2 linked regions of the Homo sapiens genome follow. The protein of the gene in region 1 purifies or fractionates together with the protein of each later gene. This does not show direct contact. Each region holds a gene or a part of one and is shown in the gene's direction. Other genes may lie near its edges.

Region 1 (3,821 bases):
CTCATCTCTACAAAAAATAAAAAATTAGTTGGGCATGGTAATGCATACCTATACTCCCAACTACTTGGGAGGCTGAGGTGGGAGGATCACTTGAGCCTAGGAGGTCCAGGTTGCAGTGAGCCATGGTTGTACCACTGCACTCCCACCCAGGCAACAGAACAAGACCCTGTCCCAAAAATAATAATAAGAAGAAAAATAAGCATATGTACTGTAAAATAAAGCTTATTTTACCCTAAAGCCATGTTGCTGGTCCATAATTTTAATTGTTTGAATATGTTCTTTTGTGATTATATTAATTCCATTTCCCTCCTATTTTATAAACCTGAAGTCAACTATATTGTCTTCTCTATATTGTAGGCTTTATTGTAAGGCTTTGCAGAGGGTGCATAGGAAGCATGTAAAAACTTTAGTTAATAATAACAATAGTTACTAATTATTGCTGTGAGCTAGATCCTTGGTAAGTACTGTGTAAGTGGTATAAAAATCATTTTTCACAGCATCTGTATGTATGTATGCATTATCTCTACAGGGAAATGAGGCAGTTTAATTAGAAAGCAAAGTAACTTTTTTACTATTGCCCAGCTAGGAAGTAGTTTGAACTCAGAACCAAAGCCTACATTCTTAAACACTATGTAAATACATATTGCCTCTGTGTAAGTGCAAGAAATGAAAGGTAAAAATTATGTGAACAAATAAAGCATCAGGATAGCATTGGAATTTTATATATTTTCTACCTTCTTTGAGATTATTAGCTTTCCATTAGGAGATGGGTGCTTAGAATTATAGCTCAAAGAGACATCCTTCACTCTTGCTATTTCCTACTGGCTCCAGTAAAATAGTTGGAAACTGATGCTGTTTGTCTTAAATGAAACAATATATTTGATAATATCTGAAAATTCTTTGTAAAATTGTAAAGTACCACACAGTTGTGAGATACTGTTAGAAAATGGGTTTGTCAGCGACCTGTGAGTCTTGTCATGTGTGCTGTTGTTGGCAGATAAACTGCTCAGGCATCTTATACTGACCTCCCTCAAGAGCCTTTCCTGATGTAGTTGTTGCCTGGTTGGTAACAATAAATCCTGTTTATAGGCTCCGCTGGGCCATGATACAGGCTACAGAGCTATAGTGTTAGGGTGACATTTAAGACACCTAATTACTCCTCTGAAACTGGGCCCATATCTTGATACTACTTCCCTTCTTTCCCTCCCAAGCTCGCAGTGTCACGTTCAGATCATGAATGATATCTGTGTCTAATGTAAAGTGGTGACAGTCACAAGGAACCGTCTGATGTAACTTTTATCTAAGGAACATGGGGAAAATGCGGGCAAAAACTTTGTTCTTCAAAATAGATGATGGGAAAATTCACTAACTGCAATTTCTTTCTCTAAATACACCTGGCAAACCTGAAACAGCCCCGTAACACCCAGCCTATCTTTCCCACATTTCTTAAACTGAGAATTATCACATTGGGACATTCATATGTATAAAAAACACAAAATGGTTATGCTTTCTAATATTCACTAAGTGGCCTAAGTCCTTACCTAAAGAAGTTCATGCCCATCCCAAATGCTTTCAGATAGGTTGCCATCCCCATCTGCTTTTCCACCCTGTTCTTACAATTCCAGAACATCTTCGTGTTGCATATATACACTTGCTTTGACTTCTAGTAAAAATAGCAATTAATTTATCTAGATTGTTTATATGTTATTTTATACACCCTCATGACCCCAAGCCCCACCAGAAGCCCTACTAGGTGCTTCCAAATTTAAACAACTTTTTTTCCAAAAAATAAAATATAGCAGTTACTGAACTGTAGGGAATCTTCTATCTTATCATATCCTCAAGAGGTGAGGCATTTGAAGACTCTATGCTTTATTATCTGTTAAGAATGGACACAAAGTGAAAATAAAATATTGGGTCAAGTTTTAAGTTGACATAAAGTATTCAGAAATCTTGTGTGTTCTCATTTTAGCATGCTCCTTTTGATGCAATGATTATGGTGAACATCAGTTATTATGTGGATGAGAAAATTTTTCAGAATGAAGGAAGATGGAAGGTATGTTTGAATAAATATTTCATCTTTTTTCTCCTAATAGTTCTATAGATAAAATATTTTTAAGTCTTCCCTATTTTCAGGGTTCAGAGAAGGTACGAGATATACCACTTCCAGAAGAGCTCATTTTCATTGTGGATGAGAAAGTTTTAAATGACATCAACCAAGCTAAAGCCCAGTATCTCAGGGAGGTATATTTTTCACTTTTCTCTTAAATAATAATGATTTTTTCTTTTAACAACCATATGTAAAAATTTGGCTGTCATCCAAGCATGTCTGCACAAAACATTTTAAAATTATGCCTTTAACACCTTTAATTCTTTATGTCTGGTGATTACTTTAATGCAGGTGATAATTTGCTTCTCTTTGGTGTATTCTCCTTAGGTGATTTTTCACCGTTCTCATTTAATTCTTCTTGTTAGGCATCTGATCTACAGATTGCGGCTTATGCCTTTACATCTTTTGGCAAAAAGCTAACCAAGAACAAGATGCTTCACCCGGATACGTTTATTCAGCTTGCACTTCAGCTGGCCTATTACAGACTTCATGGACAGTAAGGACCATTCAGTTTCTATTTTCACAGTCTTGAAGTCCAAGGGTATATCTTTTTTTATAGCTATTTCATCCTAACTCCTCAGTATTTTTGCTCACTTTTTTCCCAGCTGGTACTGTGTCCTATTTGTACTTCCATCAATAGAGTATTAGATTTCTGATCTGTGGTGGTTTCACAGTTTTTCCTTGTTACTTTATCACAGTATCCACTTGATAACTTTTGACGTGTCTATTCTCATCTGAAAGAGGATTGGTCATCTTTGGCATTCAGATCGCTTGGTTTTCTTGCAACGTCAGTTTTCTGATGGGTTCATGAAAAGTTGTGATTTTATAAATTATCCAGCCTTTACTCATTTTTAGAATAGGAGCGACATTAATTTTGTGACTTAATACATCCTAAGAAGAAGTAGAAGTCCCTCAATGTTGCTTTTTCATTGATAAATAAGTTATAATTGAACATATTTATCAGGTACATGTGATTTTTTTGATACATGCATAAAATGTGTAATGGTCAAATCACGGTAATTGGGATGTCCACTGCCTCAACCATTTATTACGTCTTCGTGTGGGGAATGTTCCAAGTCTTCTCTTCTTGGTATTTTGAAATATACAACAAATTATTGTTAACTATAGTCAACCTACTGTGCTATCGAACACTAGAAGTTATTCCATCTAACTGTACCATTATACCCATTAGCTAACTTCTCTTCAATCTCCTCTCCCCCCTACTCATCCCAATCTCTGTTAACCACCATTTTACTGTCTACTTCCACGAGATCAATTTTTTTTAACTCCCATATATAGGTGAGAACCTGCAGTATTTGTCTTTCTATTTCTGGATTATTTCACTTAACAAAAAGTTATCCAGCCTTACCCATGTTGCTGCAAATGAAGGGATTTCATTCTTTGTTTTTTTATTTTGGCTGAGTAATATTCCATTGTGTATGTATATCACTTTTTTTTTTTTTTTTGAGTCAGAGTCTTGCTCTGTCGCCCAGGTTGGAGTGCAGTGGCATGGTCTTGGTTCCCTGCAACCTCTACCTCCTGGGTTCAAGCAATTCTCCCTGCCTCAGCCTCCTGAGTAGCTGGGATTACAGGTGCCTGCCACCATGCCTGGCTAATTTTTATAGTTTTAGTAGAGATGGGGTTTCGTCGTGTTGGCCAGGCTGGTCTCTAACTCCTGAGCTCAGGTGATCTGCGTGCCTTGGCCTCCCAA
Region 2 (3,821 bases), on another chromosome or scaffold:
TCAGGCTGGAGTACAGTGGCATGATCTTGGCTCACTGCAACCTCTGCCCTCCGGGTTCAAGTGATTCTCCTGCCTCAGACTCCCAAGTAGCTGGGATTACAGGTGCCTGCCACCATGGCTGGCTAATTTTGTATTTTTAGTACAGATGGGGTTTCACCACGTTGGCCAGGCTGGTCTCAAACTCTTGACCTCAGGTTATCCATCTGCCTCGGCCTCCCAAAGTGCTGAGATTATAGGTGTGAGCCACTGTGCCCAGACTTCTTTCTTTTTTTTTTGAGAGAGAGTCTCGCCCTGTCGCCCAGGCTGGAGAGCAGTGGCACAGTCTTGGCTCACTGCAAGCTCTGCCTCTGGGGTTCACACCATTCTCCTGCCTCAGCCTCCTGAGTAGCTGGGACTACAGGCGCCCACCACTACGCCCAGCTAATTTTTTGTATTTTTAGTAGAGACGGGGTTTCACTGTGTTAGCCAGGATGGTCTCTATCTGCTGACCTCGTGATCCTCCCGCCTTGGCCTCCCAAAGTGCTGGGATTACAGGCGTGAGCCACTGCGCCTGGCCGCCTTCTTTTTTTTATTTTGAGACAGTTTCGCTAGGTCACCTAGGCTGGAGTTCTGACTCCAGGCACGAGCCACCGTGCCTGGCCACACCCAGCTAATTTTCTAAAAATTTTTTTTGTAGGCCAAACATGGTGGCTCATGCCTGTAATCCCAGCACTTTAGCAGGCCGAGGTGGGTGGATCACGAGGTCAGGAGATAGAGACCATCCTGGCCAACATGGTGAAACCCCATCTCTACTAAACATAGAAAAATTAGCCAGGTGTGGTGGCATGTGCCTGTCGTCCCAGCTACTCAGGAGGCTGAGGCAGGAGAATCACTTGAACCCGGGAGGTGGAGGTTGCAGTGAGCCAAGATCGTGCCACTGCACTCCAGCCTGGGCGATAGAGCAAGACTCTGTCTCAAAACAAAACAAACAAAAAAAAACAAACAAATTTTTTTTTTTTTTGTAAAGACAGTGTCTTGCTATGTTGCCCAAGCTGGTCTAGAACTCCAAGTCTCAAGCAATCCTCCTGCCTCGTCCCCTCAAAGTGATGGGATTACAGGTGTGAGCCACTAGGCCAGGACTGAATTTGTTTAATTGCCTAATTTATTTATCTTCATTAGCAGAATAAAAACCCAGAATGTTTATGGCTATTGACTCTGGGGCTTATTCTGTTAATTATTTTTTGTTACTAATTTTTTCTACACTAGTTTGTTTTACAGTTAATATTATTTAAGTAATTTTAAAAGTGTTGTTGGCCGGACATGATGGCTCATACCTGTAATCTCAGCACTTTGGGAGCCTAAGGTGGGTGGATCATTGTAAGGTTAGGAGTTCGAGACCAGCCTGACCAACATGATGAAACCCAGTCTCTACTAAAAATACAAAAATATTAGCTGGGCATGGTGGTGCACACCTGTAATCCCAGCTACTCAGGAGGCTGAGGCAGGAGAATTGCTTGAACCCGGGAGGGGGAGGTTGCAGTGAGCCGAGATTGCACCACTGTACTCCAGCCTGGGCGACAGAATGAGATTCTGTCTCAAAAAAAAAAAAGTGTTAGAGGTTTGGTTGAGTTTTATGGATCTCTGAAACAAATGTGACCTTATGAAAATCAAGTCTGCATACAGTGTCCTAATGCCAACTTGAGGCCAGTTCTGAAAAGTAAATAATACAGTGAAACTTATTGGGAGATAATCATTTAAAATTTTGCAATTTGTATTCGAATTAGAAGGGTAGAGAATTCTGAATTTTTTTTTTTTTTTTTTTTTTGAGACAGAGTCTCAGTCTGTCTCCGGGCTGGAGTGCAGTGGCGCGATCTCGGCTCACTGCAACCTCCGCCTCCTGGGTTCAAGCGATTCTCCTGCCCCAGCCTCCCAAATAGCTGAGATTACATGAGCCCACCACCACACCCAGCTAATTTTTGTATTTTTAGTAGAGATGGGGTTTCGCCATGTTGGCCAGGCTGGTCTCGAACTCCTGACCTCAGGTGATCCGCCTGCCTCAGCCTTCCAAAATGCTGGGATTACAGGCATGAGCCACCGTGCCCGGCCCTTTTAGTTATTTTTAAATGTACAATATATTGTTGACTGTAGTCACCACATTGTGCTATCAAATGCTAGATCTTACTTATTTTAATTGTATTTTTGTACCCATTACCTTTTCAGCATTTTTGTCTGTTTTTATGTCCATTAAATGCTATAGTGATATCCTAACCTTTCCTTAATATATTAATGCAAACAGCAAAACATTTGCATTAAAATATATAATAGGTTTAGAATTTCTCAGAGAGAAGAGCTGGCTTTGCCTTTGAAATACCCATGGAGGCCGGGCACGGTGGCTCATGCCTGTAATCCCAGCACTTTGGGAGGCCGAGGCAGGTGGATCACCAGGTCAGGAGTTCAAGACCAGCCTGGCCAAGAGAGTGAAACCCACCTCTACTAAAAATACAAAAAAAAAAAAAATTAGCCAGGTGCAGTGGCAGGTGCCTGTAATCCTAGATACTTGGGAGGCTGAGGCAGGAGAATCGCTTGAACCTGGGCGGCAGAGGTTGCAGTGAGTCGAGATCATGCCATTGCACTCCAGCCTGGGCAACAGAGTGAGACTCTGTCTCAAAAAAAAAAAAAAAAAAAAAGAAAGAAAGAAATACCCACACATGGAAAACATCTTGGGGTCTCCACAGTGGAAAGAGGCCAGAAGATCAGTGAGCAGATTGTCATTGGCACCCCTGGGACTGTGCTGGACTGGTGCTCCAAGCTCAAGTTCATTGATCCCAAGAAAATCAAGGTGTTTGTTCTGGATGAGGCTGATGTCATGATAGCCACTCAGGGCCACCAAGATCAGAGCATCCGCATCCAGAGGTAGGGATCTCGAGGGTGGGGGACTCCTCAGATTCCCCATCTGCAGTGTCTTCTCCCTTCACTTCAGATGCCTCCTCTGGCTTCTGCCTGGGTCTTGGCTCTCGTACTCTCAGCAGCATTTGTTTGACGGGCCACTTCCGTGTCAGCGCTGGCCACAGTCCCTCCCAGCCTGGGTTGAGAAAGGAGACCTAGGGACTCTCCCCCAACCCCTGTCCCCATCCCAGGCCTGCTGCTCCTCCTCCCCAAGACGCTCCTCTCCCATCAGCCTTCCTGGGCATCTAGACCCTCCCAGCTGGGAAGGCTGTGCTTCTGTCGCTTCCCGGGGCCACCTGGGGCCACCTACCAGGGCCTTCCCTTGCAGGATGCTGCCCAGGAACTGCCAGATGCTGCTTTTCTCCGCCACCTTTGAAGACTCTGTGTGGAAGTTTGCCCAGAAAGTGGTCCCAGACCCAAACGTTATCAAACTGAAGCGTGAGGAAGAGACCCTGGACACCATCAAGCAGTACTATGTCCTGTGCAGCAGCAGAGACGAGAAGTTCCAGGCCTTGTGTAACCTCTACGGGGCCATCACCATTGCTCAAGCCATGATCTTCTGCCATGTGAGTAGCAGTGGCAGTGGCAGGCCTGGCCCTTCCCTCTCAGCCAGCTCCCCACAGGGCTCAGGAGGACTGGATGCCCCTGGGTGCCATGGGAAGAAACGAAGTGGTTTGTTCTCCTAAGGTTTTAGTGAGTCGTAAGAGGGAGACTTTGATTCCACTTCTTAGTGATTACTTGGAGAAAACCCCAAGTAACAGCCAATGAAATAATTTTTAGATTTTTAAGAATATAAGCTGGGCGGCTGGCACGGTGGCTCATGCCTGTAATCCCTGCACTTTGGGAGGCCAAGGCGGGTGGATCACCTGAGGTCAGGAGACCAAGACCAGCCTGGC

What was found.
Region 2: the proteins of CROT (region 1) and DDX19B purify together in Homo sapiens (affinity purification with mass spectrometry; one large-scale study listed by BioGRID and IntAct). This does not show direct contact.

The regions. Positions count from the first base shown.
Region 1 is NC_000007.14:87,379,938-87,383,758, forward strand, and holds part of CROT (peroxisomal carnitine O-octanoyltransferase), read left to right. Parts: intron 1-1,972; coding exon 1,973-2,056; intron 2,057-2,136; coding exon 2,137-2,244; intron 2,245-2,475; coding exon 2,476-2,606; intron 2,607-3,821. UniProt on the Homo sapiens protein: Beta-oxidation of fatty acids. The highest activity concerns the C6 to C10 chain length substrate. Converts the end product of pristanic acid beta oxidation, 4,8-dimethylnonanoyl-CoA, to its corresponding carnitine ester.
Region 2 is NC_000016.10:70,326,578-70,330,398, forward strand, and holds part of DDX19B (ATP-dependent RNA helicase DDX19B), read left to right. Parts: intron 1-2,714; coding exon 2,715-2,892; intron 2,893-3,253; coding exon 3,254-3,491; intron 3,492-3,821. UniProt on the Homo sapiens protein: ATP-dependent RNA helicase involved in mRNA export from the nucleus.